Homo sapiens: one gene and its partners. The protein of the gene in region 7 purifies or fractionates together with the protein of the main gene of each other region. This does not show direct contact. Each region holds a gene or a part of one and is shown on either strand. Other genes may lie near its edges. The genes, in order: TGFBR3, ARHGAP29, OSBPL8, SDC2, SDC4, GPC6 and GPR183.

What was found.
Region 1: the proteins of GPR183 (region 7) and TGFBR3 purify together in Homo sapiens (affinity purification with mass spectrometry; 3 studies listed by BioGRID and IntAct, with this or other methods). This does not show direct contact.
Region 2: the proteins of GPR183 (region 7) and ARHGAP29 purify together in Homo sapiens (affinity purification with mass spectrometry; 3 studies listed by BioGRID and IntAct, with this or other methods). This does not show direct contact.
Region 3: the proteins of GPR183 (region 7) and OSBPL8 purify together in Homo sapiens (affinity purification with mass spectrometry; 3 studies listed by BioGRID and IntAct, with this or other methods). This does not show direct contact.
Region 4: the proteins of GPR183 (region 7) and SDC2 purify together in Homo sapiens (affinity purification with mass spectrometry; 3 studies listed by BioGRID and IntAct, with this or other methods). This does not show direct contact.
Region 5: the proteins of GPR183 (region 7) and SDC4 purify together in Homo sapiens (affinity purification with mass spectrometry; 2 studies listed by BioGRID and IntAct, with this or other methods). This does not show direct contact.
Region 6: the proteins of GPR183 (region 7) and GPC6 purify together in Homo sapiens (affinity purification with mass spectrometry; 3 studies listed by BioGRID and IntAct, with this or other methods). This does not show direct contact.

What each region holds. Positions count from the first base shown.
Region 1 is NC_000001.11:91,879,556-91,883,686, forward strand, and holds part of TGFBR3 (transforming growth factor beta receptor type 3 isoform a precursor), read right to left. Parts: intron 1-4,131. UniProt on the Homo sapiens protein: Cell surface receptor that regulates diverse cellular processes including cell proliferation, differentiation, migration, and apoptosis.
Region 2 is NC_000001.11:94,234,373-94,239,132, reverse strand, and holds the start of ARHGAP29 (rho GTPase-activating protein 29), read left to right. Parts: upstream 1-1,548; 5' UTR 1,549-1,705; coding exon of another isoform or gene 1,706-1,718; intron 1,719-4,760. UniProt on the Homo sapiens protein: GTPase activator for the Rho-type GTPases by converting them to an inactive GDP-bound state. Has strong activity toward RHOA, and weaker activity toward RAC1 and CDC42. May act as a specific effector of RAP2A to regulate Rho.
Region 3 is NC_000012.12:76,371,032-76,375,162, reverse strand, and holds part of OSBPL8 (oxysterol-binding protein-related protein 8), read left to right. Parts: intron 1-1,729; coding exon 1,730-1,819; intron 1,820-3,578; coding exon 3,579-3,715; intron 3,716-4,131. UniProt on the Homo sapiens protein: Lipid transporter involved in lipid countertransport between the endoplasmic reticulum and the plasma membrane: specifically exchanges phosphatidylserine with phosphatidylinositol 4-phosphate (PI4P), delivering phosphatidylserine to the plasma membrane in exchange for PI4P, which is degraded by the SAC1/SACM1L phosphatase in the endoplasmic reticulum.
Region 4 is NC_000008.11:96,604,947-96,609,077, reverse strand, and holds part of SDC2 (syndecan-2 precursor), read right to left. Parts: intron 744-4,131; coding exon 608-743; intron 1-607. UniProt on the Homo sapiens protein: Cell surface proteoglycan which regulates dendritic arbor morphogenesis.
Region 5 is NC_000020.11:45,341,344-45,345,474, reverse strand, and holds part of SDC4 (syndecan-4 precursor), read left to right. Parts: intron 1-4,131. UniProt on the Homo sapiens protein: Cell surface proteoglycan which regulates exosome biogenesis in concert with SDCBP and PDCD6IP.
Region 6 is NC_000013.11:93,225,209-93,230,089, reverse strand, and holds the start of GPC6 (glypican-6 precursor), read right to left. Parts: upstream 3,284-4,881; 5' UTR 2,634-3,283; coding exon 2,474-2,633; intron 1-2,473. UniProt on the Homo sapiens protein: Cell surface proteoglycan that bears heparan sulfate. Putative cell surface coreceptor for growth factors, extracellular matrix proteins, proteases and anti-proteases. Enhances migration and invasion of cancer cells through WNT5A signaling.
Region 7 is NC_000013.11:99,293,839-99,297,830, reverse strand, and holds the end of GPR183 (G-protein coupled receptor 183), read left to right. Parts: intron 1-1,667; 5' UTR 1,668-1,685; coding exon 1,686-2,771; 3' UTR 2,772-3,292; downstream 3,293-3,992. UniProt on the Homo sapiens protein: G-protein coupled receptor expressed in lymphocytes that acts as a chemotactic receptor for B-cells, T-cells, splenic dendritic cells, monocytes/macrophages and astrocytes.

The DNA of each region.
Region 1 (4,131 bases), on a different chromosome or scaffold from region 7:
ATCTTTGGCCTGAAAAACTGAAGAATAAAAAATGAAGAATAAGTTCCAAATGACAGTAGCCTCATGCAGAATTTATATCAATGTTGTTTCAAAAACACATTTTGGTTGAGAGAGCAAGACATCAAAATCATTATTCAAGTGGGGAGGAAGAATGCTTGGAAATTTGTGCTGATTCTTAAGCAAGGACTTTGCAAGCAGAGAAAATAAAGCTCAATGTCAGTTAACAAACAAATGTGCTATTTCAAAAGATATAAAATAAGAAATCTAGAAATTTTATATTCCTAGATTTATTTATTATATTTCTATATTTCCTGGACAGAGCCCAGGAAATGAACCCAGATCCTTCTTGTAAGGCCCTTCCAAGCTGTGTTGATTTATTTCAGCTTGACTAGACACTGAACAAATTAGCAACAGCTTGTGTTTTATGACATGCTGCAAAGAAACAATGCTATCATTCCAAGTGTTACTCTGAAGATGCAGAACCAGAGAAGTTACTGCTATGGCTCTTGGTACACTTAATTTTCTTCCTACAGAAATGCCCTCACTCAATCTGCTGAAGGCTCACTATTATGTGTTTAAGGTTAGCTTTTCATATAACCTAGATTCACTCTTAAATTCCAAATTGCTTATATTCCTAGTGGCAATACAAGACTGCTTTTACATTAAAGGCCCCTAAAAACATTTATCTAACTCAAGTTATGCAAATTTCAAAAAAGTTAACATTTTTTAAATTTACAATTGTTTTAAATAAGTTTAAAAATATGGCCGGGCGCGATGGCTCACACCTGTAATCCCAGCACGTTGGGAGGCCAAGACGGCGGATCACGAGGTCAGGAGATTGAGACCATCCTAGCTAACACGGTGAAACCCTGTCTCTACTAAAAATACAAAAATTAGCTGGGCGTGGTGGCGGGCGCCTGTAGTCTCAGCTACTCGGGAGACTGAGGCAAGAGAATGGCGTGAACCAGGGAGGCGGAGCTTGCAGTGAGCCGAGATCGCGCCACTGCACTCCACCCTGGGTGACAGAGCGAGACTCCGTCCCAAAAAAAATAAAAATAAAAATAAAAATATAAGAAAAATGCTCCAGTAGACTGATGGAAATGGCAATAAAATCACTTTTAAGTAACTGTTAAGACTGAAAAAGAAGACTGTCCTTTAGTAGCTAATAAATCTGACAGCCAGGAGCAGTGGCTCATGCCTGTAATCCCAACAATTTGAGAAGATGAGGCAGGAGGATCACTTGAGCCCAGGAGTTCGAGACCAGCCGAGGCAACATAGTAAGACTCTGTCTCAAAATATATACATATTATATATTATACAATATATAGTTATAGATTATATATATGTGAGATTTTACATATATTTACATATTTTATATGAATAAGTATATAAATAAAAATAAAAAATAAATCTGACAATTACAATTTTTATCCAACAGCAATGAAAGCACCACAAAAAGATGTTTCAAAATGAACTATCAAGAAGGGAGGTAATTCAAAATGACCACAGAGCAGAATCATCCAGGCAAAATATTACAGCAAAGTTATTACTTACACAGTCACAGTCTAAACTCTAACTGTTCTGTCTGTTAAGCTTAAAATGTAAAGTCAGGACCTTTCACAGATTTTTGAAGCCAGGAAATTGGTCTTCACTTATATACTAAAGAAGTCAGCAGTGATCACCTTCTTAAAACTCAAAGGACAGTTGAGTTCCCTGGGCTCTTAGGCTCAGATTCTGCCCTCAGAAAAACAAGCACTCACCTGACTTTTACAAGTCACAACCAAGTTTGCATGCAAGAGAGAAAAATTAATTCTTTTGAGTCTTAAAAACAATGGAACAACACTTTCCTTCAAGCCAACGAAAGGCTTTCTGTAAGAAAGCCCTAAGCAACCTGAAGGCATTTTGGCCCCCAGTCATCAGAGCACTGAATAAGGACAATTAATTTGCCAAGCTCCAAGACCAGAAACCATAGCCTAGTAGGGAGTAGGAGGTTATAAGTGTTTGTTGAATTACTCGAGTAAACTAGAGCAAAGCATAGAAGACTAAATGAGATCCTAAATAAATGCCACTCTGTAGTATAAGCGCAATGCTAAGATTTAAAAAGAAGGGACTCAACTAATTTTGAAAGTTATTTTAAAATAGGATCCATGGGACCCTAACGTAGTAAATGAAATAAAGGTAAATCAATACTACATAATATGGGGCCGGGCACAGTCGCTCACGCCTATAATCCCAGCACTTTGGGAGGCCGAGGCGGGTGGATCATGAGGTCAGGAGATCAAGACCATCGGGGCTAACACAGTGAAGCCCCGTCTCTACGAAAAATATAAAAAATTAGTCGGGCGTGGTGGCATGCACCTGTGGTCCCCGCTACTCGGGAGGCTGAGGCAGGAGAATCTCTTGAACCTGGGAGGCGGAGGTTGCAGTGAGCCAAGATCACTCCACTGCACTCCAGCCTGGACGACAGAGCGAAACTTTGTCTCAAAAATAAATAAATAAATAAATAATAAAAAAATACTACATAATACGCAAGAAACAAGAAAGGAAACTGGCCTACAAAACTACAGACAAAAATTGAAAACCTTTTTTTTTTTTTTTTTTGAGACAGAACCTCGCTGTCTGCCAGGCTGGCGTGCAGTGGCACGATCTCAGCTCACTGAAACCTCCACCTCCTGGGCTCAAGGGATCCTCCCACCTCAGCCTCTGGAGTAGCTGTGATTACAGGTGTGCACCACCACGCTCAGCAAATTGTTGTATTTTCTGTAGAGATCAGGTTTCGCCATGTTGGCCAGGCTGGTCTCGAACTCCTGACCTCAAGTGATCCACCTGCCTCGGCCTCCCAACATGCTGGGATTACAGGCGTGAGCCACCACACCCAGCCAAAAACTTTTTTTAAAAGTCAAGTTTGGCCAGGCACCGTGGCTCACGCCTGTAATCCCAGCACTTTGGGAGGCTGAGGTAGGCGGATCACAAGGTCAGGAGATCGAGACCTTCCTGGCTAACACGGTGAAACCCCGTCTCTACTAAAAATACAAAAAAATTAGCCGGGCATGGTGGCGAGTGCCTGTAGTTACAGCTGCTGGGGAGGCTGAGGCAGGAGAATGGCGTGAACCTGGGAGGTGGAGCTTGCAGTGAGCTGAGATTGCACCACTGCACTCCCGCCCGGGCGACAGAGCGAGAGACTCCATCTCAAAAAATAAATAAATAAATAGATAAATGTCAAGTGTGATTTTTTCAAGCATATTCTTATTGTTTATGTTTACAAGTATGAGTATTCATAGACACATCACACTTATACTAGTATCAAATATGATACATCTGAACTACTACTATACTTGAATATTAACGTAAGCCTCTGAGGAATTCACAGTAATAGAACTGCTGTTATTTAGGATTACTGATCCCCTATTGTCTTGCACTTAGAAGATGTTAATGAAAGATGATGACAGGATTGTGAACACACCAACCTCCCTGAGAACAAATTCATTATATTCAGTTTTCTACAAAACACAAATGAGGATCATTACAAAAGGATTCACAACAAATTCCTCTGGATTTCCATTTCTCCCAGGTAAGTTGAAATATTATTCAAACCACACAAAATTAGTTTACATACAAACTTCACTTTTTAAAGAGATGGGGGTCTCACTATGTTACCCAGGCTGGTCTCGAACTCCTTGGCCAAGTGATCCTCCTACCTCAGCCTCCCAAAGTGTTGGAATTACAGGTGTGAGCCACTGTGCCTGGCCTACACACCACTTAAGGAAACAAATTGAAAAAAAACTATATGTGTGTTTATCTATCTGTCCAGCCACCATGGAGTTCTTGACATATATTCAACATACAGGCCCTGTCCTCAAGGTCATTCTTAATCAGTTCAAATTAAATCTAGTCCTCCATTATAAACTCCAAAAGCAACTTAGTTATTTTGCTAGATATTTTGCCCTCCCCTTTCAAACTATATGTTTAATACTCTAAAAACGGGTTTATGCGCCTTATAGATATCAACAGTGTGTTATGCTCCCCCTATTGACTAATATTCAAAATAACAATGAACTCCCCACGGGTTGCCTTTGAAGTGCTGGGATTCAAAACTATGTTGGTGATTTTTATATTTAAAAACATGAGCTG
Region 2 (4,760 bases), on a different chromosome or scaffold from region 7:
TTTTCTTTTTCAGCACGATTAGAAGGAATTTTGGTTTTTGAGGTTTCCTATTTGTGGCAGGACCTTGTTACTATTATTTTGGGGATTTGAGGGGAAAATCTGTGTAAGTTGAGTCCAAAAAATCCAGTATGGTGCCAAAGTAACCAAGGAGCTGAGTTTTCTTATTTATCTTTTCTAAGTAGCACCTGAGGAGCCAAATTTGTTGTATTTTCTTAGCATTGTTTTTCCTGTAAGGGTTCAAAGATATGTCTATGTAAGATGTCCCTCTTCTCTTTCTTTGTCAATGAGTTTTTCTCTTGCCCCGCTACCCTACTTTTGGTTCTGTCATGCTCACTTACTTTTCTGTTTGTTAAGTGGGTAGTCTCTCCTTTTATTTTTCTTCCTTATTTTCTCTTTTTGCCTTCACTTATTTCTGCCTTCCTTGGTTTTCTTCCCTTTTCCTGTGTCTGCACCTCATTTTCTTTCCAGTTTTCCTCAGCACATTCTCCTGTGTCTTTTTCTGTTTCTCCCGTGTGTGGTCATTTTTCTCGCAGACCCCAGCGCTACCCACAGTCTCCCTCCCTGTGTTTTTTCCTCTGTTTCTCTATGAGTTCTTTCTGAATGTTCCAGCACTGAGGTAAGTGCCATCGCTTGTTCCAGCGAGTGGTGTGATATAGGGACTATGTGCTTTCTAGCCCTGCTTGCTATAATTATTCCATCTTTCTCAGACTTTTTTTTTTCTTCTCATTATGAAGTGAGTTTGAAAGTGCAGCTAAGAAAGAAAGGACCGGGCACAGTGGCTCATGCTTGTAATCCCAGTACTTTGGGAGGCTGAGGCGGGTGGATCACCTGAGGTCGGGAGGTCGGGAATTCGAGACCAGCTTGGCCAACATAGCGAAACCCTGCCTCTACTAAAAATACTAAAATTAGCTTGGCGTGGTAATGGGTGCCTATAATCGCAGCTACTCAGGTGGCTGAGGTGGGAGAATCAATTGAGCCCGGGAGGCGGAGGTTGCAGTGAGCCGAGATCACGCCATTAGACTCGTCTGGGCGACAGAGCGAGACTCCGTCTCCAAAAAAAAAAAAAAAAAAAAAAAAAATACAGATAGGCCTAAGTGGAAACTATTACCCTCCATAGAGGGCAGAGGGGCAGAGTAGATGGCTGGTTTTGAGGTAGTTCATTCTTCATTCAGACGTGTGGCGCCCTTCCCCAGGCCCTAACCCCTGGAAGAGGGAGGAAAAAGGCGATCCACAGAAGTGTCTCATAAGAAATGTAGCTGCTCATCTGGCCATTAGCCGCATCTAGTCCTCAGGTGACTTTTCTCTGAGTCGCTCTGCCTGTCCCCTGCAAGCCAAAAGGGCAGCCGACGCAGCCCGTGATGCTGGGACAGCGTCCGGCCGCGCGCAACTGACGGTCGCGTTCTGCGCGCGAGCTAGTTGCCTCCCGTACCTGCCGCGGTCGCCGGCCCCGCCCCCGGGAGCGCGGGCCAATGGGCTGGGCTCCAGGGGGCGGGGCTGGCGGGCGGGCGGTGCGGCCGTGGCGGTAGCTGCAGGGGCGGTGGCGGCTGCAGTGGTGGTGGTGCCTGTGGCTGTGGCTGCGGCTGCGGCTGCGGCTGAGATTTGGCCGGGCGTCCGCAGGCCGTGGGGGATGGGGGCAGCGAGCTCCAGCCCTCGGCGGTGGCGGCGGCCGTAGGTGTGGGGCGGGCGTCCGCGTCCGGCACGCGAGATGGAGCGCCGTGGTGAGTGTGAGGAGGTGGCGCTTGCTCCGGCCGCGGCGGTCGTGGCTCCGGGCTGGGGTTGCCCGCGCGAGCGCCCGCGAATTGCCGTCCAGGGTCCGGGAGGCCCGCGGGGCGGCCCCGAGTGGAAGCGGTGGCAGGCTGCGCTAGGGACGGGTGTCCTCGAGCCAGGACTGGAGTCCACGGGAAGGGTCCGGCCGGGGCTAGGGGCGCGCCCGGCGAGGGAGGCGCGGACGAGCTGGGGAGGACGCCAGCGGTGGCCGGGAGCAGACGGTGACGATCGTAATTAAAGTTAGCACACAGCGCGTACAACGGGTCCGCCTGCTGTTCTGAAGCCTTTGCACATTTTAACTCTTTTAATGTTCAGAACACTCCATGATTGTTCGACTCGGTTCACACGGGGAAACCGAGGTTAAAAACCTGCCCAAGCACACAGACTAGTGGTTGGCAGCGTCAGGACCTAAACCCAGGCGCTTTTGCTCCGGAATCCGTGCTCCTGATCACTATGGGTCTGTGTTCTTGCCTGGATTCTATTCCCGCTCCCACCTGCCCTGACTGCAGCCCTCACTCCAGTTGGGCTCTCATTCCTGAGATATTTTAGGATTTCCGTGGTGCATTTTCTCCTGGTCTGTGTTTTTTGGGTTTCGTTGAGAGTTTTCCTCAGTCTCAGAGGTTTGTCCCAGTTCAATTGTGGACGTGTTTTGGGGTTTGACAGTTTTAATTAAAAAAAAAAATTTTTTGGGGGGCGGGTGAGCTGGAGTTGGACGTTTCAAGGTGGAACCCTCGTGACTGACGAGCCTCTTGTCTCTATGTTTATCTTTTTAAAACTTTCTCAGAGGGTATTGGCCCCAAATGTTTTCGGAGGGCAGGATATTACCTGCTAATGGCAGGAGCTGAGCTCTCCTTCCCTTCTCTCCATCTGTCTCTGTGACTGTATCTCTTGTCTATAGTTTATCTTTTGTCCGTCGTTACCACCGTCGGCTGTCCATTTTGGTTGCTCCATTCTTCCCTCTTTGTTTAAATTCTTGGATGAGGAACTTGCTCTTTGGCAAAGAGTAGTTTTGGCTGGTCAAAGGAGAGTACTGCCTGCCAGGAATGCTAGACATTCTGGAGGGGTGGGATGCTGGGCAGCTTCCTCTTTTTAAAGCGTGCTAGGTTCAAACTGTACAGAAATGAAGTGCATGTGTATTGCATGCCTTCCTTTAAAAATTGTTTGCATAGTATTGATAAAACTCTTTCTCACATGTCCCTATTCTGTTTTTGTGGAGAGTGCTTTTTAAAACCATAAAGATTTAATCATCGTTTTAGGATGAGCTCATCTAATCTTTTTAGCATCTCAAAGTAGATTCTTGCCAAATCTGAAATTGTGCTGAAATAGCAGATTTCTGAAATATCTGGCAATTTTTCCTCAAGAAGAAATGGTAGAATGGGAAATAGTAAGTATAGATGTTTGGGGGCAGTTTTACACTTCAATTAGAGAGCCTAAAATGAAACTACTGCCGTAATGTGCATTTGGCAGGGGGCATGCGTGGGGCAGCGGACATTTGATTGACACAGGCTCCTGCAGTCGTGGGGGATAGGAAGTTTGTGTCTACATTTCTAATGCACACAACACTTAGATTTACAACATACAATGGAAGTGGTTTTGCACGGTAATTTTCTACTTGCTAGAGAATTCTTTGAGAAGTGGATAATACATGTTTTTAATATTGTTGGTTTGAAGTTGAAAGAGATGCACCAGAATTAGTGTGTCAAAAATATTTTGCACAAGTCTATTTGCACAGTTCAAATTTCACTTGGAAGCTTTTTAGTAGGTTTCCACAGAGTCAGTTAAGTTTCTACAATTGTTTCCAGTCCTGTATTTCTTGCTCACAATCCACTTATGTATTGTAGTGAAGCCACATCTTGTTCAAAAACAATTTCCCACAATAAAGCACTGCTAGTAATAATGACTTTTCTTTATGGTTCATCTTTATGATGAACCAGGCACTCTGCTAAGTACTTTGCATGCGTCATTACCTAATTAAGTTGCCAGTTGCAGTCTGTTAGTAACTAAGTTTTATGTTACTTCCAACAAGAGAATATTCATTTTCGCGCATGAGAAAGTAGTGTATATGATCTTGGAAAGTGTGTATTGTTCCAGCTTCTCATTATCATAGTTCATTTATGAAAGCTTGGGTTAAGTTTGTTATTTTAAACGTTTTTTCAATTGTAATGTTTCCTTTTTTTACTCTGGAATATGAAAAGTAGTAATATATAACAAAATCAGCACATTAATCATTATAATGCTGGCTAGAGATAGGGTATAATCCTTTTTTATAAGAGGAAAAGAGTTCCTCTTCTCCTTGCCATGTGTTTGATGTTGTTGTTGCTGTGTTTGTTTTTTGCAGATTTTTTAAGTCTTGTCTAAAAATGTTCCAGCAGTTTTGAAACACTTTGAAAGTTTGGGTTACTATTTTACATGTAGTTACTTAAAGTAAATTATTTCTGCTAAAATAGGTAAATTGTTTTAATGTCTTTAATTTTTGTAACCATCTTTACCAGTGACAGTGACCAATTCTCTAATTTACCAAGTTTAAAAGCTGTCATAACTAAACAGAATGACGTTATTAAGTAAACTGCAAGAGTGATGTTTGGTTAGGCTAATAGGCATTTTGGTTAGTGATTTGTAAAAGAGCTGCCCAAAAAAGACACTTTGAATTTTTGTTTTGTTTTTGTTGATGGGAAGGAAGACTTAGATATAATAATAATGCTCAAAAATTGCCCTAGATTCATTTTAGAAATGATGTATGCATATAAGGATTAATGTTAGATAGGTTTGAAACTAGTTTAAATGTAGAAGTTAGATTCTCAGAAATAATTTGAGATTGACAAAAGGACAGTGAATAAACAAACTTTAAAAATTATAAAGTGTGGTCCCCAGTTTAATAATCAGGAGGAGCAATAATAGAAATCCAACTTTGATTTCAGTTTTATGTAATCTTCCCTCAGCTTCATATACTTTTCTTTTTGAAACATACCATTTTAGAGAGTTTTTTAAAAATT
Region 3 (4,131 bases), on a different chromosome or scaffold from region 7:
TTTATGTCATGTCAAGGATAAGTGCATCTAAGGAATAAGGGCAAGGCTGGGTGAGTATCTTCGGGTAGCCTAAGATAGCAGCCTTGGAAAATTCAAATTAACACAAAAGACATTTTTTGTTTTTCATCTTAATTAATAAAACTGTGGGTATTATATAGAAGATGAGATTTAAGAAGTGATTGGATAGAAATTTCTTAGTAAATTAAAGGATTGTTTTTACCAAATACCAGAAGATATGTGTCATCTTGCAGTCTAGCTGTGTAAACCAAGGCACAGTTGTATTAGTCACTATTTCTGTGTAATAAGTTACTCTAAAACTCACAGACTTAATAACTATGTGCTGTTCCTCATGAGTTCTGTGAGTCAAAAATTTGGACAGGGTATACTGGGGATAGCTTATCTCTGCTTCATAATGTCTGGGGTCTCAGAAAGACTTTGTAGGCCATGGGTGACTCAATAGTTAGGGACTGTAATCACCTGAAGGCTTATCACTTACATATCTGATACCTGGTCTAGGGTGACCGAAGGACTAGAACTGCTAATCTGAGCACCTGTATACATGGCCTTTCCATGTGACTTGATTTCCTGACAGCATGACAGCCTCAAAGTAGACTTCTTACTTGGCAGTTGAGGGTTTCAAAGTGCAAGTGCCCCAGTGAGCAAGACAGAAACTGCATTTCCTTTCCATGACCTAGCCTGAGAAGCCAAATTATATCACTTCCACCATCTTCTATTATTTGGAGAATTGTAAGACCACCCAAATTCAAGGAGAAGAAATATAGACCCCACTTCTCATTGGGAGAGTGGCAAGGTCTCCTTGAGGAAGAGTATGTGGGCTGAAGGGGAGAGGGTACGTATTGTCAAGGCCATCTTTGGAAATTTTTGTCTGCCTCAAAATGAAAGGGAAATTTGAGAACTTAATGTGAATTAATTGTTCTTGAACAATAGTATATTCAGATAAAAATATTTCTGTAAACTAGTAATATTTATTACTAAATTGCTGCTATGTTGATATCCAGCTGATAAGCAATTTTGCTCTGATAAAAAAGACCTCTTAAGTATTATTTGATGCAATGTCTTTTATTTTATTTTTCTTTCACCTTGGCAAAATTTTCCTTGTATGGTGATGATAATGTTTGAAGATCATGATGAATGAGTTCTTAAGTATATATGATGCCTTTAAGTATGACATTGGAGCATCAAAATTTTGTCTCTAAGGAGAGATGTTAGTAAGGCATTATAGTAACTCAGTGTATTCCTTCTAATTTTATTTTTTGGAGGCTTTTTTTGGCTATATATTTTACTTTTGTTTGTTTGTTTTTTAAGGAAGGGGTGTTATTTATTTCAATGGATCGTTAATTCCATTAGGTTTATTGAGTTGTTATTGCTTAAGATAACGTCACATTGATAGGGCACAGTCTTGACAGGGGAGGACACAGGATTTGAGCATACATGGAACATGAGTCAGTTATATCAGGGTGATCTTTCTTAATATGTTTATTTTGATTTAATATAGTCTGCTTGTTTTATCCTATTTTTTTCATAGCAGCAATTCAGATTTCTTATTAAACATTTCTAACTAAAATTTGAGTCAGTATTTTTTTACTGCTTGTGCATTCAATAGTACTGTAACTATACAAGCAATTTTTGTTGGGTTTTTTGTTTTGGTTTTACATTATATGTAAATATAAGTGAAAAGTAAAATGTTTAACATTTTCTCGTTTAAAAGCCATTCCTAGGGAGTAGTGACTGTGTTAATCAAATATCAGGGAAACTTAAACTGGGAAAAGAAGTCCTAGCTACTTTGGAAGGTCATTGGGTAAGTATTTTGTATATGAGCTTTACAAAAAGAATTTTATTCTGTGGGAAAAAAAAAATCACATTTAAAATTTAAAACTTATTCCGTTGCTGAAAACATCACTATTTAACATAAGCTTCATCTTAATAGCAGATATTTTGGTGGTGTTCTGTTATCAACAGTAGTTAATTTTGTGTAATATTTTATTTCCAAAACTTAAAATCAGTAGAAATAGCTAACACTTATATATGACTTACTGCATTATTTAAGAATGTTACTCATATTAACTGATTTAATATTTATAACATATAACGCTATGAGGTGAGTATATAGGTGCCATGCCCATTTTATTATTGTTTATTATTGTCCCCATTTTACAGAAGAGGACACTGAGGCACAGAGAGTTCACATAATTTGCTCAAAGTAGGTAGTGGAACAAGAATTAAAGCCCAGGAACCCTGGCCCCAGGACTGTGCTTTTATGCACAGCACTCTACTCACATAGAAGAAAGAGGCATAGTTCCAATTAGAGTTATATTCCTTTCAGTGGAACATGGAAAGGATATAGTGGTGTGTGAGAGCAATGGCTTTTATTTACTTCTCTGCTAACCTAAATTCATATTTATGTAATTTTGTTAAGAGACGCTTAAATGAATAAAAAGAATCATGGTACTGCATGGATATACCATACTATGAGCACTGAGTATATGCTCCTTTCTGCATGCAGTAAGCAGAAAATGTTGAGAAATATGAGAAAGTGAAGTTAGGGACTTTGTTAAGTGGCCACATACACTCTGAAAATTTTTTTTAATTGCCTTAAATCTGAGAGTCTTCTGGAAAAAAGATAAAGCAGCAGTCATTTTTAAAAAATGAAATTTCTGTCTGGGTGGGGTGGCTCACACCTATAATTCCAGCACTTTGGGAAGCTCAGGAGTTTGAGATCAGCCTGGGTGACATAACAAGACCTCTTCTCTACTAAACATAAAAATAAAAAAATTAGATGGGCATGATGGCACATGCCTGTCCCAGCTACTCAGGAAGCTAAGGCAGGAAGATTGCTTGAGCCTGGGAGGTGGAAGCTGCAGTGAGCCATGATTGTGCTACTGCCCTCCAGCCTGGGTGAGAAAGCAAGACCCTGTCTCAGACAGATAGATAAGATAGAGATGAGAGTGAGAGATGACAGAGAGAGAGAGAAGGAGAAGGATGGTTAAACAGGTAGATAAATTAGATAGGTAAAATAGATTAGATAGATAAGGTAGATAGCACCGCTGCACTCCAGCCTACACAAGAGAGCAAGACCGTCCATGTCTTAGATAGAAAGATTATTCGATAGAGATAGACCTCAAATTTTTAATGCTAGTAAAGGCTCTTTCAGAGGGATGTGTGTGTGTGTATGTTTGAGTATATTGAATCCATGGATAGTCAACAGCATCTCATTGTAGCTGCAACAAATACTATGCTCTACTTGGACAGTTTGGAGATGGTTATTGAGGCTTTGCATGTAATGTTTGAAATTTATTAAGTAAAACTTATGAAATTTCACAAACTGGATATTCAACCAAATTCTTTTTAATTAACTAGTATTACGTAGTCAATCTTAATGTTTTTATAAAAATGATAAGAAACTTGGAGTTTTTGGAAAAGTGCTAGTTATATTTGTTTTAAAAATGCTTTTAACTGGAGGATTAACCAGAAGAAATTATCACCGTCATATTACTATACTATATAATTGCCTTCTAAGTATAATTCTTTACATTAATTTTGAATTTTTTTAAATATAGGATAGTGAAGTTTTTATTACTGATAAAAAGACTGATAATTCAGAGGTTTTCTGGAATCCAACACCTGACATTAAGCAATGGAGATTAATAAGGCACACTGTAAAATTTGAAGAACAGGGAGATTTTGAATCAGAGAAGTAAGTATACTGTTTTACAGCTAACTTCATGAGGATCAGAGAGTAGTTTTTCAATTCCTTAATGATATGGTCATTTTGTCACCTTCTGTCATATCTTAATTCAGCAAAATAGTTTATCATTTGTGGAAGTGACAGTATTCTGTTTTTGTGTATATGAATGTCAAATATAATATAAATCGTCTTGCTTTTCTGTAGCTCAAAACTACTCATTTTTTTCTTTCTCAATTGTTCCAGCACCTTAAAAAAAAAGAAAGAAAGAACGTTTTTGTTTAAATAAGATTACAGGACTAATTAATGACTCTTAGTTTCTACCTGGCAACAGTTTTCTAACCTGATTTAAGCATTAGAACTCTAGGTAAAGGGAGTGGTGCAGAATCTACTTCTGTTCCATTCTCTGATACAAAAGTAAAGTTACT
Region 4 (4,131 bases), on a different chromosome or scaffold from region 7:
ATATTCTAATTTTCTAACTGCTTTTTTTCAACAGAGAACATAGTATAATTGACTTAAAATTTTAAAGAGTATACATGAAAAAAAGCATGCAAATTTATTTCTATTCTTGGATTTGAGACTACCAAGTGTGCCTAAATCTTGAAAGTTTTCCCCTTTAAAATATTTGCACTTCCATCCAATTAAGTTAAAATAGAAACAACGTTCTTAACACTTTGGGCAGTACTTATATGAACTGCCTTCCCCTAAAGAACTTTTCGTTCTCTTTATTTTGAAATGTAGAATGCCTGTGAGCAAGACTGATGGATCTCCACACTCTGCCATCTCTCTACATCCAGTTGTTCTGGATCAATTCAGATGTTAACTTTCCCTCTTTTAGGCTACCTCCTATCCCCTGCCCGATGGCTGGCGAAGAGGTAGGTTGAGGGAGCTGGCAGACAATAAAGACAATGTTTGCTGAGCCTCTTGCTTCTCGCTCTGGAATCAAGCACCCACAAGACTGCTTTCAGCAGAAAGATGACAGCAAGCTTTGCTGCACTTTTGAATATCACTTAGACTAACAGAGGCCTATGTAGGCACCCTCCCACCTGAGGCCCACCAGGCTACTCACCTGCTAGGACTTCTGTCCGTTTAAACAGACTGTCTGAGTGTTTCTCAGTATACACATTTGTATCCTCTTCGGCTGGGTCCATTTTCCTTTCTGAGTCAGAGAGGTGAACTTTCTCTTTATCAGTTTCTTCAGGTGACTGGTATGGGAAACAGGGAAAGATTACATTGATTTAAGGAAATGTGTTGGAAAGAAGAAATAATAGATGAGTATATTCCAAAATTTTTTTTTCCCCCAAAGAATGAGTTTAGGAAATAACTGGAATAATCACTTGTGTGATGTTTATAGCAATGGGTGAGTGTCATGATGGACCCATGTAGTTCATGGTTTGCACAACACCCATCGCATGATCAGGCAAGTCGGAGAGCTAGTGAGTTCATAATAATCCTAAGGACATGGTGAGGTTGTTTTAGTGGACATTTCCTAAGATTTCTACTTTCTCACCACTCTTCTAACTGCAGGTCACCATCTCCCTCTGACTGCTCCAACCCAACAGCACTGCCCCAATTCTCCCTGCTCCTTCACTTCTGAACTACACAGGGCACTAGGACAACAGTTCCCTTTCAGATATTCTCTCACGCCTGACTGGGCTTTTCCTGTCCCCACTCTGTGGGGAGCAATCCCCAAGCCTTACTCCTAATGCTTCCCCCTAGTTATATTACCTTCAGCAAACCCTAGACCAGGACTTCCAGGGACTTGGATTGCGCAAGTAGCTCCTCCCTGATCACATCATACTTCTTTTCTCCACCTTGATTTCCTCACCTGTCTAATGAACGACACTCACTGGGTCTCGGACACTGCACAATGCTCAAGCAGAAATCTATGGGAATACCTCTCACAGCCGCATCTCTAGTCAGCATTATTCCCAACAAGCCAGCAGCCTGCAGGACATTAACTGTTGGCTGTACCACCTTTAACTCTACTCGTCAAGTCTAAGTAGTAATTAATTCACTGCTGAATCAGATCAACCTCCTTTTCTATTCCCATTAATGGCACTGTATTTTGGGGTGTTACCAAGTTATCTATTACGGCACATTTTCTATCATATGTTTTCCATGTCACAGCACTGTCAATTTGCCTCCCATCTTGCTCTCACATTAACTTCTTCCCTTGGGTTCTCATTTCCACAGCTTCGTTCAGGTGGCCAGCACATCACAGCCCAGCTCCCATCCCGCATCGACCTCAGAACTGCAGGTGTTGGGTAGCTTCCAGTCCTCACCCAACCCACCACTTACTCCCAGTAGAAAACCCTGTGAGGTCATTTCCACCACCTCTTCATTATCAAAAATGGTTCTTAGTATCTGTGCTGTAGTTTAGCGGTCCCCAATCTTTCCATGAATGGGAGGGTGGGGGGGATGGAGGGGGATGAAACTATTCCACCTCAGACTCTCATAAGGAGCACAACAGGCACAGTTCACAATCGCGTTTGCGCTCCTAGATCCTATGGGAATGGCACGCCTCCACTGATCTGACAGGAGGCGGAGCTCAGGTGGTAATGCTCACTCACTTCCTGCTGTGCAGCCTGGTTCCTAACAGGCCACCGCTACTGGTCCGTGGCCCCAGAAGCGGGTGGGGAACTCTGCTCTAGTTCATGCAGTTCTATCCCCAGTCCAAATGTTGCACTTCTTTTACTATCTGTTTGTCCTTAATGAAGCCTTCTCTGACCTTTTACCTCACTAAACCCCCAGGATTATTTACACAGAAATTATCTCTTGCCTTTCTAACTCTCAGCACCATCACTGGCCATCTTATGTGAATCACCCAAGGTTACGCTGATCCACATCACCTGAAAGGCATTAAAAAAAATACAGTCCTACTACTAGAGGTTCCATTTCAATTGGTCTGACTTCAGGTCACCATCTCCCTCTGACTGCTCCAACCCAACAGCACTGCCCCAGTTCTCCTTACTCCTTCACTTCTGAGCTATACAGGGCACTATGTAGCTGGCACTGACTTTTACTGCTATTTAAGTTCTCCAGACAATTCCATAGTTTAAGAACCAGTGGATTAGAGAAGTCCCATTCAAAGGAGTTGTTCATTCTCTAACAGTCTGAAGTTCTTGTCGGCCAGCATCACTGATGAAAACACTGTCAACTTCATTGAGGTTTAAAGGCTAAAGGTGGCTGGGTAGGGAGCCCAAGGTGAGAGGATCATTCGAGACCAACCTGGGCAACATACTGAGACCTTGTCTCTACAAAAAAATTTTTAAAATTAGCCAGGCATGGTGCTGTGTACCTGTGGAGGATCTCTTGATCCCAGGAGTTGGAGGCTGCGGTGAGCTATAATTGTGCCACTGCATTCTAGCCTGGGTAACAGAGTGAGACCCTGTCTCAAAAAAAATACTGCAGACAATAATCCTTCTCAGCTCTACTACTCTTCCTAAGTTCCTGAGAGCTTCCTACCATCTTCATTAGGACTCCACAGAGTCTAACATACCATGGCTCAGCAAAGCAAATGATTGCTTTCTGAAGGCTAGAGTTCATCCAAAATGGCGGCCTGCTAGTTAAGTCTAGAGGCTTAAAGAGTGTAAGAAGAAAAGACCTCACACCTTCTTGGGCTGTGCAAGTAGCTCCTGTGGGACCCTGACCACATCATACTTCTTTTCTGCACCTTAAGGCCACCCTCATTGCTAGGAAGGACCATAAGCTAGACCAGGTGGATCCATTTGTACTCTAGGGTATGTAAGATCAATAGGTCCCTGTCTCAGTGAGCAGAACGCTACACTTCTACTGAAGGTGGTATGTAATAAAGTATAATAAAGAGTAACTGTCATTCCCAAATTGCAAGAAACCCTGTACTACCTAAACTTCAACCTGCCATGACTTACAAAAAGCAGAGGCCATAGAGAAATTTCATTTCACTGGTGCACAATATGCACTGAAAATGTCACCGTCCTTTCTATTACTATGAGAGAAGGAAATACGACAGGCCTTCCCAGGCCTTCAGGTACCAAAGTAAAGCAGAAGAGAGCAGCTCATTGGCAGTATTTTTGCTGAGATTTTTCTATTCTTCTCATGAAAAGCCCATCATTAATTGGCTGCCTTGTGGAAAGACAGACAACAGGTCAGAGAATGGATTATCTGGGTTCTAGTCTAGAGACCTTTTCACTGCTCATTAGTACTGCTTTACTATTACAAGTTAGAAAAGGGAAGAGAAATCTCAAATAGGTGAATACTCAGGTTTGTGACTAGGGAGAGAGGTAAACAAGTTCTGGTGAGAAATGAAATGGACCTAAGTAGTTACTGTAATATGAGAGACTGAGTTTAATTCATCCATATCCATATCATCTTTGTCCCATTATTATTACAAATCATATGGTTTCACCATGTGATTGAGTCCCTAAAGTCATTTAAGAGAGTTGATCTTTTCAGTTTCCTCTGACTCAGCCTCTGATCCGGCAGGCTGAACAAAGCGTGCAATCCAGGGATCTGAGAGTGTGGGAACTGAAGGACTCCACAGAACTGGAGCCGCCCTGCAGCTGGAGGTGCACAAGCCTCAAGCGGCTCTGGGTGGAAAATTCATTTTTT
Region 5 (4,131 bases), on a different chromosome or scaffold from region 7:
CACGAAAATATTTGGGCCATGATTTGGAGGGTTCCATGAGGTTGGGGGGAGGCCTCTTTCCCCGCTGGGCTGACATCCCCCACCTTAAAATGAAAGGTTTGAACAGGGTAGCCTCCAGAGTCCTTTCCATCTCTCAATTTGATTAATAACTTAAGTACCTACTATTCAAAAGAGGTCTCTCTCTTGAAGGAATTAACTTGAGGGAATTAACATACTCCACCAAATGCTGAATCCCTCCCTCTCTCCCCCCGCACACTGAGGGCAGGAACTCTGCTCTATTTGTTTTTGTGAAATACCTGTCCCCTAGTTTGTACTCAGGAAATGCTTGTATGAATGAATAAATTCGTGCATGTAACTTTATTCTAAATGGTTCATTACTGTTATTTATTGCTAGTATGAGTATCTCCCAGTACTGCGAGGTACCATTTTCTCTATTTTTACAGGAAATTGATGCTCGGAACAATGCAGTGGCTTCCTAAGGTCAGAACCAGGTCCTTCTGATAGGGCAAGGTGTCTGGTTTGAGTGTCCTCAGAATATTCCAGATGAGGAAATTTGCTGGGTTTGAAGGTAGATACCTTAGGTCCTACTTCTGCGTTGCTGGGTGACCTTGAGCAAACATGCCCTGTCTCTGGGTCTCAGTGTCCCCAACTCTAAAATAAGGAGGCTGGACCATTGCCTTCCAAGGGTCCTTCCTGCCCAGAGAGCCCATTGATGAGGGGAGGGGCCCTTTGCTGGCCTCCTTGGTGAAGAGTCTAAACAAATCCCAGTCTCAGAAGAGAAGTTGGGGTGGCGGGGGGACATTCAGCTCCTGCCATCCCCAGCTCCTAGAAACAGAGGGCTTTTCCAAGGACTTGGAGTGCTGAGCCTGCCTGAATGAGGAGCTGGGGAAGCCAGGCTGGGCTCCCAGCCCCATCTCCCTGTTGGGAGAAGTTGGCTCCTAGCTGTCCTTCAACCTCCCGGACTGGACAGGCGAGTGTGATTTCCAAATGAATGCTTAAAATTGGGGTAAGGGGCTGGACCGAGCGCTGTGAGTCACTGCATGCTAGCGTAGCCTGCCTGAGTCACCCATTTCCTTTCAAACTCTTGGCTAATAGGACAGCTCTGTGGTGGGGGTGTTGGAATGAGCTCAGAGTTTTACCTTGTCCTTTGGGAGTCACTGTTTCAGTGTCCGGGGCTCGAGGGGACATACAGGACATGTTTGTACTAGGTCCCGCACTTTCACAGCCCCTTGCCTGCATGTAGACTTTGACATTGTACATTGTGCAGCCAGTCCTCAAAATTGGGCTTTAGACCTCTGCAGAGCAGGTAGTACTTTTTTCCTCTTTAAGGCAAAACTGAGGCTGCAACTGGCCTGCATTTTTTCAGAGAGCAAAAGCTGGTACTGTTCAGGTTTGGTGTGACCCCAGGATTTTCTGATGTTTGTGAGGACTCCTCTTTGCTTCCTGGGGCTGGCCAGAGGGCATTGAAACATTGGCTTGGTGTTACACAGACTTAACTCCAGACGTGCGAAGTCCACCTCTTACTGGCTACATGAATTCAGTCATGCTACTCCACCTCTGAGCCCCAGCCTCCTGGTCTGTTAAGAAGATCATGATACCGGTGTGGCGAAGCTTAAAGGAGACGACAGGGCTGTAAATAAAGGCACCTAGTACCATGCCTGGTAGGGAGGAGGTGTTACTTAGTGACAGTTCCCTTCCTTGCCCAGGCCACCTTCATGCCAGGGGGTCCTATCTCTGAAGATTCTGAGCCCAGGTCTCCTGGAAAGCTTTCTCCATCCCCCTTATCCCCCTTATCTACCCCCACAGCTGGGAGGTGGGAAGGGAGAAATCTAGGGTGGGGCTTTTGGAGTCCAAATCTCCTATTTGTTTATCTTAGAAGTGGGCTGTTTGCTAATTATCGAATGGGTTTATGTTTAAACAAGAACCAGTTCTGGGCAGCCCCACCTCTCCTGCTGGGATTTGCTGGAGCCTCATGCTGAACAGTTTGCAGCCTGGAGGGAGAGGGGGCAGGGGGTTTGCCAAGGGTATCAGACCACTCTGGACACTGTCCAGGACCTGGGGTCACCCTCCTGTGCTGGAGGGGCAGAGTTTCTACCCTTAAGGAGGCTGAGTGATTGCAAATAGCACTTTGAGGGGTGGGGTGTTGGTGGACAGAAAAGGTACAGTGTTCTGAAAAGCCAGTTTCTCGTATGTTTTCACTGCATGGTGCCCTAGAGAGGGAGGAGAGAGAACACATATGTCAACAGTTGGGGTCTCATTTAACCTTAGAAGAATAAGCCTGACTTCTTGGGCTTGTTTGTCATTAACTAACACAGTGGTGACCTTGGGCACATTCTTGCATCTCACTGGGGCCTCTCTGGTCCCATCTGCTGAAGGCTGGGTGACTGAAAAAGAGGGTACAGAAAACTCCAGCCCCCGTCCTAGCTCTGCTGCTCACCCAGGGACACACACAGTTAATACGTCACTTTGTTGATGTGAACTCCAGTGTCCTCTATAAAACACCTGTGGCACTCAAAGGTCATCATCGCTGTTTGGCAAACTTGTAAAGTTCTGGCTTTATTAGCACCTAGACGAGGGTTCTTAACCCGGCCAGAGTTTGGCTTTGGGGAGGTGGTGTCTGTGCATATGTTGAAAATGTAAACTAAGAGTTACAGTTATTGGGGTTTAGACCTTTTTATCCTTTTCAGGGGGCTGCAGTACTCCCCAAAAGGTCACTCTGATCTCAGCAGTTCTTTCTGGCTTTGACCTTTCTACAGCCATCCTTCCTCCCTCCCCCACTTCCCAGCCTTGTTCTTGCCTCCTGCTTCCCCCAACCCCCACCTTCAGCCCAGACCTTCCTATTCAGCGGCCCCCACCCCTTCAGGCTGCATCTCACCCCTCCCCCTGTCCTCCAGGCCCGGGAGCTCGGCTGCTCCAGTTTTCTCTGGCACAGTAGAAGAGGCTGCTGGTCAGGTGACACCTGGGGTAATGGAAAGGGGAGGCAGGGAGAGGCTGGTATGTGTGGAAACAGTGACTTGGTGAAGCCCAGCAGTCAGTGGCCAGGCCTGCGGGGACTGGCGGTGTCACTCTAGCCTCTGGGCGTGGGGGCAGATGTGGCACATGGCTGGCCCGGCTACCCAGAGTGGGGATACTCCTTGCCTTGGAGAAGCCCTGCCGGAGCCGTCTGTGGGACAGACTGACCTGGTCTGGAGGATGGCTTCCTTGGGGGTCGGTGAGGGAGGCTGGGAAGAGGCAGGAAGCCAGCACCCAGGGCTGATCTAATCAGCTGAGATAAGGCTGCAGCGTGGGCTCTCTACTCTGCTCTGAGAACACAGGAGGTTTGTTTACATCCCGAGAGCCTCCCTAGCCCTCGGATCCAGCAGGGATTTCGGATCTGCTGCCTAGATTACAAGCTCCAACTTCAATGCACCTCTGTCTCTGAGGCCCTGAGGGAGCCAGCCCCCTCCTGGCTGTCTCCACCGGTAATCGGAGCAATGCCCAGCTTGGTTACTGGGCTGGGACAGAGGGAGGCTTGTCTCTTTGAGACCTGTCTTTTACAGATTGGAAAACTGAGGCTCAGAGAAGGGAATTGTCCACGATCATCCAGGGAGTTAGTAACAAGGGTGCTGGGTCAGCTCCTGGCAGGGAGACATCCAGAGGCTCCTGAACCCTTCCCCCATTTCTAGCTGGCACCCTAGGATCCTGGAGTTCTTGCTGTGGGAATGGGCTGCCCTGAGGCTTGGTGAAAAGCTGGTTGCAGGCAGTGCCAGGCCTGGCTCTCTCCTGAGTGATTGTGTTCAGAGTAACCCGACCTTGAAGGCGACATTTGAACCCTCACTCCACCCCCACCCCCAGACCTGGTTTAACCATTCAGGCACCAGAGCACCAGACCATGGATTGGTGTGTAGTTTCTTTTTACCTTCTAGATTTTTATTTATTTATTTTGTCCCTGGGGACCCAGGTCCCCAAGTAGAATTTCAGGTGTTTCTGGTCACTGTCATTTGCACCTTCGGGGAAAATAAAAATGGTCTTTACCTCTGTCTGCTTAGGACAGGTGGTCAAAGCTGTGTGACCTTGGGCAGGTCTCTGACTATCTCTGTATCTTTTTTTCACAGTCTGAAGGGACCTGATTGGTTGTTGAAAAGTCTCTGG
Region 6 (4,881 bases), 6.1 Mb from region 7:
AGATGCCCAATCAAGGCAAAGGATAAAAAAGAGTTTAAGAAAAGATAACCACTTACACTAGATAATTAAATGTAAACAGTATCAAGAACTAGGGAGGAGAGATAGAGTGTGTTCCTGTAACAACAGGGTATATTTCCTAAGTGATTATTAAAACAGCAATAGGTAGCATTAAGTAAAGTTGATTTTGAAAAAACAAGTATATCCTTAAAAAACACAATTATCTTTCAATTCATTATTTTCCTATTAAATGTGCCTCTGACCCTGTGGTGACCTGCATCTTGATTATGTCTACCAGCATCAAAGGACACAAGGCTTAAAGCAAAGTTAACAGTATGCCCTTACTCATGGAAAGTAGGTGAGTTTAAAAAAAAAAAAGTGCACACATTTTAGAAATTCATAGCTAATAAGCAAACACTGTAATTGTAAAAAGGTGGGGAGGAAACCAAAAACAAAAACAAAAACCTCTTTAGTTAAATATCCACCGAAGAATTTACATGAACCCCTGGGAATGTTCTCAACAAACATTCATGGTGACTACAGAAATTGTTTTACACTGAAAATCTTCACTTTGATATTAAAGAGATGTGCCTGATGCTGAGGATGAACTCTAGTCTCCTGAGAGTCCCATTATCCTCTAAAGAATACCGAAGCAATTTAAAAATACCTAACTATTTTCTTCTTTGAGACATCTTATCTGAAATCATGTTGGGAAATATCTTGTGTGCTTAAAAGATACCGTTTGAAAAAGCCCAGATTAAAGGAGAAAAAGTTCCTAGAAGAAGTGATCCATACTATAAACCTTTTAAAAAGTTGAATTCCCTGAGATTTGGGGAGGGAAAAAAAAAAGCGAAGCTGATCCTTATCAATTAATTAAAAAGAATGAAATAACAGTAGACAAAGGAGAAGGAGAGTTAAGAAACTTAAGGAGCTGTGGGGACAGTCGCTCTCTATTCATTGATTAACAAATTAAGGAGTTCTGGAAAAGAAGGAAGAAGTAACAAGGATAGAAAAGTAGGCTTATAATTCACCACAGATTCTAACTTAGACTCAGCAAAGGGAATGTCTGGCTCTGAACTGAAAAAGCTCCTTCTATATAATGAGCGTGGTAATTTGCGCCTCTTTTTTTCCCCCTTTGCCAATGCTCAAATTTATTTAAATGTGTTCATTTCAGTGTAAGTAAAAACCCTCACTTCTACAGCTTGAAAATCATAAGAAAATAGTAATTCCTCAACGTATCGAAACTGTGATGTTCTAAGATATCTGCAAAATGCTTTTCATCCATCCACCAGTTATTTGGCAAAAAGCAGACAGAGGCTGGTGGAAATTCAGCGTTTTGACTTGACGATCTGAGGTCACTAAGGACTTCAGCTGCCCGGTTTGAGCAGCCCGCGCCCTCGCAGCATCTCCTGGCCTCCCTCGGCCTCTCTCAGTTCTGTTCTTTAGCAGCCAAAGGATTATCTCTCCCCGACACGTTTCATTCACAGAGCCCCAGAGAAGCTCGGATTCGGTTGGAGCTAAGAGCCGGAAAACAAGCACCCAGACTGCCGCGCAAGTTGTCGGAGACCAAGTGCTACACACACTGGCGCCGAGAGAAAGGGTGGGCGCTCTCAAGCTCTTGGTGGAGCAATGCCAGTGGCCGGGCATGCGGGGGACACGGGGCCCCCGAACCCGGACCCGAATCCCCAGCTGAGCCACCCGCTAAAGTTGGCTGTTCGCTGGCAGACGAGGCCGGCTCCAGACCGGGTGGCAGGGTGTCCCCGGGCCCTGAGTGGCCAACAGCAACTGGGGAAGCACTGAGGAACCCTAACGGGAAAGCCCGCCCCACATCTGAAACAGGCAGCCCGTGAAGTCCCCAAACCAGCCTTGAAACGCCGGCGTCCAGAGGCCAGGTCCCCGGCGAGGGTCCCTCCCAGCCTTGCCCGCCCCCGGCCCGAGCGCCGGGCGCTCTGTCGCCCGAAGGACGGATAGGGGAGAGAGGGGCTGGGGGAGCCCTCCGCGTCTCTCCACCGCCCCTGCCGGCGCAAGGGCGGGAGTGGAGAAGGCGCCACTCAGACTGTGGCGCTGGGCAAACTGCGGTCGCAGTTCTTCCAAGTTTGCCCGAACCAGAACGCGGAGTGAGCGCCCGGCTCGGCTCTCCGTCTGCGCCTTGCAGCCGCCCCGGAGTGACCCGGGCTCCCTGGCCAGCCGGGCCTGAGCCATCAACTAAGGGGTAGAAGGGCGCGAGAGCAGCGGGAGGCGGGAGCCAGGGTGCTCCCGCGTGTGCACACAATGAGGCGGCGGAGACGCACACCTTCCCCCGCCGAAGAAGCCGCAGGAGCATCCGCCGCCCAACACGGAGACGCGGAGTCCCATAGCGGTGGCAGAAAGTGAGCACCAACTCAGCAACAGGGGGAAGGAAGGGGACGCCGGGCGGCCAGTGGGACGTGCGGCAGCCGAGGGCTGCAGCCTGCCCCTGCAGCGCGCCCGCGCTTACCTGCGATCTCCTGGTAGGGGATGTCCGCCAGGCTGAATCCCTTGGCACCGTACGCCTGGCGGACCTCTCCGCAGCTCCGAGCCTTCACATCCGCCCCGGCGGGGAGGGAGAGCAGCAGCCCCAAGAGGGGAAGAATCACAGCCCCGATCCAAGAAGGCATGGTGCAACATACAAATCCAGCTCGGTAAACCCCACGGCCGGTGCGCTCTTCACCTTGCCCCTCAAGCCGAAAGCCCGCCAGAGGCAGCGGCGCGCTCCTCGCCGCTGCCCAGCGTCACCCCCTTCTGCCAGCCGAGGGGACGAGCAGCGCAGCCCTCTGGACTGCGCTCAGCAAACTTTTATAAGCCAGATGGACGATGGCAAGCCAACAAGGGCTGGCTGGGAAGGCTGCTGCCTTGCTCCTCTAGCCCCCAGATGGAAACGGTGCAATCAAAACGAGGAAGAGAAGGAAAAGAAGTGTTTAAAAAACCACCATGGGGGTTCAGAGCTGCAATCCGAGTTCCGAGCCGCAGAATCCTGGAGCGCTGCGGGCTCGGCTCGCCGGAGTGTGCGGCAAAGGTGGGAGCGCGCGCCGGCTCCCCCGGGAGGGAGATGGACAAGCGAGAGCGAGTGTGTATGCGCGCGTGTGTCTGTTGGTGTGAGCTCGAGGTTCTTGGGGATGTGTGTGCGTGGAGGTATGTGTTGGGGATATACGAGATCTAGGGGAAACCTCAGCTTAACACAGGCTGTGGGAGCCTGTGAGAGTCCTCCTGAAATAGGAAGAGAGAAATCCTGGAGACAGTCACTGGAGGCAAGAGGGAAGGAGAAAGGAGGGGGGAGAAAGAAACGTGCTACACATTGCACAGCCGAAATTCACAGGCCGAGTCAAAGGCAAAACCTGGACTGGATCTCTTCCTAGTCGGTAGAAAGGGGAAAAAAAGAAAAAGAAACGTACCTATTTTCTTATTCACTTCACATCCTTTATACCGATCTGAAATGACATCAATAAACAATCTAGAAAGACAAGGTAATTTTAAGTCATTAACATGTTATTAAGCTGTATTTTTATGGAGGTAAAGGATAACGCAGTTCCAATTGTTGCTCTTAATATGTGTCCCTGACCTACTGAAACACAAAGCCAGAGTGGAAATAGTCATAGACGGGAGTTCATGGGTGGCAGAGCACAATCACGGCTCTAACTAGTTGCCTAATTTCTGTTTGACTTTGTTTTTTTCTAAAGGCACACATTACAGACTGGTAGTTCTTAATTTTTAAAGGTTTGGTTCTAGACTCAACAATTTCCCCTTTTTTTATTTCAAATATCTCATAGCCTTCGATCAGAAATCATTATGCTTAGGTTTCTAATGTGTGGAGGATCGGGAAAGCTAACAACCAGACCACAGAAGCAACAAGAAAAGGAGAGCACAAGGGTCAGAGGTGCATAAAGGGACATAATGGGGGAAGGGAGGTGATTCCTTCCCTCTCACTAGATGCCCTCACATAGTAGACTTAACATTTTCTTCCAAGTTAACATAATTCTCAAGTGGAGAATCAATCCAATTTCTTCTTCCTGTCTCCATTTACACTGATGTTCTGTGAACGGGATAAAAGTGAAAATTCAGGTTTGCCTAATTGACTTTGTTATGCTAATGGACGCACTAAAGTCAGCTGGCAGAAGTGTGTGTTGAAACCCAGAGCTCCTGAAACTACTAAGATAGTTTAATGAAAACCAAGACAAAATAATAATAATAATAGTGTTTATTCACTTACGTGGCTATGTGTCATAGGTCAGCACATTATTCACAAACTACTACAAGGTAATGCACAGTTTTGTGGAGCTCACCTATGAAGCTACACATGAAGATGTTTTCCTGATGATGATATGAATGACCAGAATGACTCATGAAGTTTAAATCTTTGAGTTTGTCATTATCATCACAACATATTAGGTACATTGTCTTCCTCTCTTTAATAAATTCCCCCTCTCCTAACCACCAAAAAGACTCTCAAGATTCAACCTCATTTAACCTTTCCAAACGCTTTAAAAATGAAGTCGACTTATTTACAGAGCCACTTTGTCTTCTTCAAACTCATAGGTCAAGACAAAACAAAACCAAAAAAAAAAAAAACAAAACAAAACAAAAAAAAAAACTCCATAGCTAAATCTTTCTGAAAACGCAACACACTTAACTTTTTTTCTCTTAAAATTTTAGCACAGTTTTTTGCTTTCACAATATTTATGCTAACTGGCAGATCTTAAATCACTGAACTTATTTTCCCTCAAGTCGGAAATCAAGATAAAATATATTCTGGTTATGTTTGTGGACAAACGGTGAGGTTGATAGGCTCAGGAATTGCAGTCAAGTTATTACTTCTGTCATATTTGACAACGTGACTTCCTTCAAACTTCTCTTTGTATCATAGTAAAG
Region 7 (3,992 bases):
CAGCTGGAATTTTTTTTTTTTTAATCTAAACCGATAGTCTCTGTCCTGTAATAGGCAAGCTCAACCCATTTAAGTTTGTTGTGACACATCCCTACCCTCTTGTGTTTTCTACTTACCATCCTCATTCTTTGTTTTTTTCCCATTGTCTCTTTTCTGGATAATAAAATGTTTTATTTCCATTTTTGCTCTCTTTTGCTTTAGGTTTTATTTCCATTTAGGTTATAATGACTAACCTATCAACACTGTACAGAATGCATACCTCTAACATAACATGACCACAATCCTCTGCTAACCCTCAGTGTCTATGAACATCTCAGTTTTAAGGTTGTTAGAATGAAGTTAGCTGAGATCCAAGTCATTTAATACAGCAGGGAGAGAAGCAGATTTGCAGACAGTGCTTTTGATCAGGGTAGAGATAGTCTTTAAGGAAATACTGTATAGTTCTTTAAATATACAGTAGCAACATCACTAGATATGCTGAAAGTGCCCCTTAATTTTGGTGACTTCCAGGTGAGATTTATGTACACACAGTTCTATCAGAGGAATTATTTTTCTTTTAAAAATAATCACACAGGATTTATTGCTCTGTTCTTCCTGCTTTAATCAAAGTTTACCCTCATCTACAGAACTTTATTGTAGGAGTTTTCCATTTTTCAATTTAGTACTTAAAATTTCTGCTTTAACATTATTTATAACAAGAAAAGAATTGGAAAGAATCCAAAAGTTCATCAAGGGAGTAGCTAAGCAAATTATGCATTGACACATTGGAAGACTGTAGAATATCTATCAAATGTTTATATAAAATATACACGACAAATATATACATTGCACTGACATGAAGATGTTTGGTGAATAAAGCAAGAAACAAAATATAAAGTGTGATGCTTGCTACTATGTGCAAAGGTAGAAGTATAGATTGCATGGATCCATGGAGTACTTGCAGATTGATAGAGTTTTAAAATTTAATAATTTCCCCTTGAAGTAGCTTAAGTCTTTTTCTCTCTCATTTTCTTTATCTTTCTTCTTTTTTTGTCATTTTAGTCATGGTTGTTGCGGTCGTCGTCTTCTTCTTTTTAAAAAGAAAATCTAACTTTCAGTTCCTAACATGGACTAAGCCTATTTCTCAGACTTTTAGGTTAACACAAATCAGATCACTGTGGTAAGTTCATATTTCACTACATAAATGTGGTGACTGATTTCATTTCCTGGCAGTGATATGCATTTGGTTAAAAAAAAATCCAACTGAAATTAAATTTAAAAGCAAAGCTTAATGCCTGTCTGAAATGTGGGGTGCTTTACTTAACCAGACAATGATTCAAAAAAGGGAAGGGGAATTTCTGCCTAAAAATTTAGTGCATTCCCTTCTGTCACAAAAGTGCGTTTGCCCTATTTAAATGGTTCTGTTTCCTTTGCCAGAGCTTTGCCAAAGTCAGCAAATTGTGAGAGTAAAAACACAAATTTTATTCTGTTCTTCCTGTTATCATATATGTAACCATATTATAATTATAAACTGTTAAAAATTGCATGTCATGAAATTTTAAAACTTAGATATATAAAAGACAGTTTGGATTGCTTTGATACATTATTTAAACTTTTTTAAAACTAATGAGTAATCAAACTGAATACATATGCTTTTACTTATATGATCCTTCTTGGTTTTTTTCTAGACACCTGGACCACCACCAATGGATATACAAATGGCAAACAATTTTACTCCGCCCTCTGCAACTCCTCAGGGAAATGACTGTGACCTCTATGCACATCACAGCACGGCCAGGATAGTAATGCCTCTGCATTACAGCCTCGTCTTCATCATTGGGCTCGTGGGAAACTTACTAGCCTTGGTCGTCATTGTTCAAAACAGGAAAAAAATCAACTCTACCACCCTCTATTCAACAAATTTGGTGATTTCTGATATACTTTTTACCACCGCTTTGCCTACACGAATAGCCTACTATGCAATGGGCTTTGACTGGAGAATCGGAGATGCCTTGTGTAGGATAACTGCGCTAGTGTTTTACATCAACACATATGCAGGTGTGAACTTTATGACCTGCCTGAGTATTGACCGCTTCATTGCTGTGGTGCACCCTCTACGCTACAACAAGATAAAAAGGATTGAACATGCAAAAGGCGTGTGCATATTTGTCTGGATTCTAGTATTTGCTCAGACACTCCCACTCCTCATCAACCCTATGTCAAAGCAGGAGGCTGAAAGGATTACATGCATGGAGTATCCAAACTTTGAAGAAACTAAATCTCTTCCCTGGATTCTGCTTGGGGCATGTTTCATAGGATATGTACTTCCACTTATAATCATTCTCATCTGCTATTCTCAGATCTGCTGCAAACTCTTCAGAACTGCCAAACAAAACCCACTCACTGAGAAATCTGGTGTAAACAAAAAGGCTCTCAACACAATTATTCTTATTATTGTTGTGTTTGTTCTCTGTTTCACACCTTACCATGTTGCAATTATTCAACATATGATTAAGAAGCTTCGTTTCTCTAATTTCCTGGAATGTAGCCAAAGACATTCGTTCCAGATTTCTCTGCACTTTACAGTATGCCTGATGAACTTCAATTGCTGCATGGACCCTTTTATCTACTTCTTTGCATGTAAAGGGTATAAGAGAAAGGTTATGAGGATGCTGAAACGGCAAGTCAGTGTATCGATTTCTAGTGCTGTGAAGTCAGCCCCTGAAGAAAATTCACGTGAAATGACAGAAACGCAGATGATGATACATTCCAAGTCTTCAAATGGAAAGTGAAATGGATTGTATTTTGGTTTATAGTGACGTAAACTGTATGACAAACTTTGCAGGACTTCCCTTATAAAGCAAAATAATTGTTCAGCTTCCAATTAGTATTCTTTTATATTTCTTTCATTGGGCACTTTCCCATCTCCAACTCGGAAGTAAGCCCAAGAGAACAACATAAAGCAAACAACATAAAGCACAATAAAAATGCAAATAAATATTTCATTTTTATTTGTAAACGAATACACCAAAAGGAGGCGCTCTTAATAACTCCCAATGTAAAAAGTTTTGTTTTAATAAAAAATTTAATTATTATTTCTTGCCAACAAATGGCTAGAAAGGACTGAATAGATTATATATTGCCAGATGTTAATACTGTAACATACTTTTTAAATAACATATTTCTTAAATCCAAATTTCTCTCAATGTTAGATTTAATTCCCTCAATAACACCAATGTTTTGTTTTGTTTCGTTCTGGGTCATAAAACTTTGTTAAGGAACTCTTTTGGAATAAAGAGCAGGATGCTGCAAAGTTATGAGTCTGTCCCTCAATGCTCCCTGTCAACTATCAGTGGGAGTGTCAGGGAAAAGATAATTGGCAATAGACTTTGAACTGCAACATTATAAATGATGATGATGATGACTGAGGCAATGAAAGCACTGAGCTTTTCCTGGAGCTGCCAGCACAGTCTTTTAGGGCCTCTGCTTAGCAATATGAAAAAGACTTTATATGGAGGTGCCCATTGGGAGGAGGGTCTGCTTGCTAAATTCATCTTGAGAATAAAAGACATGCCTATATGATTGGTTTTCTTGGGATCACTAGGGGATCATTTCTCTTTTCTTCCCCCAAGCTGTTAGTACTCTACATCTGTATTTCAATGGTTTGAGTTATCAAGTAGGAGAAGGGTGGTGCATGATGAGCAGTGAAAAATATAGCTGCTGCTTGCTAAATACGATCCGAGTAAAATGCAAACTTACAAAATTAAGCATCTTAGGATTCTTTACAATATTATATACTTGCTGAAATGAGTACCTTAGTATGAGTAGCATGACCTTTCCAGGTAGTCAACTGGTCTGCCTGTTCAAATTTGTTTTATCCCCAAAACTACCCCAATGCAGTATTCTCTGTTGGCAATGACACCAATTTTTATAATGGTAGATAAAGAAAATGTTAATTCTGAGTTGTACTTTAAAAATTTTTTTCAGAAAGGGGGTCTCACTCTGTTACACTT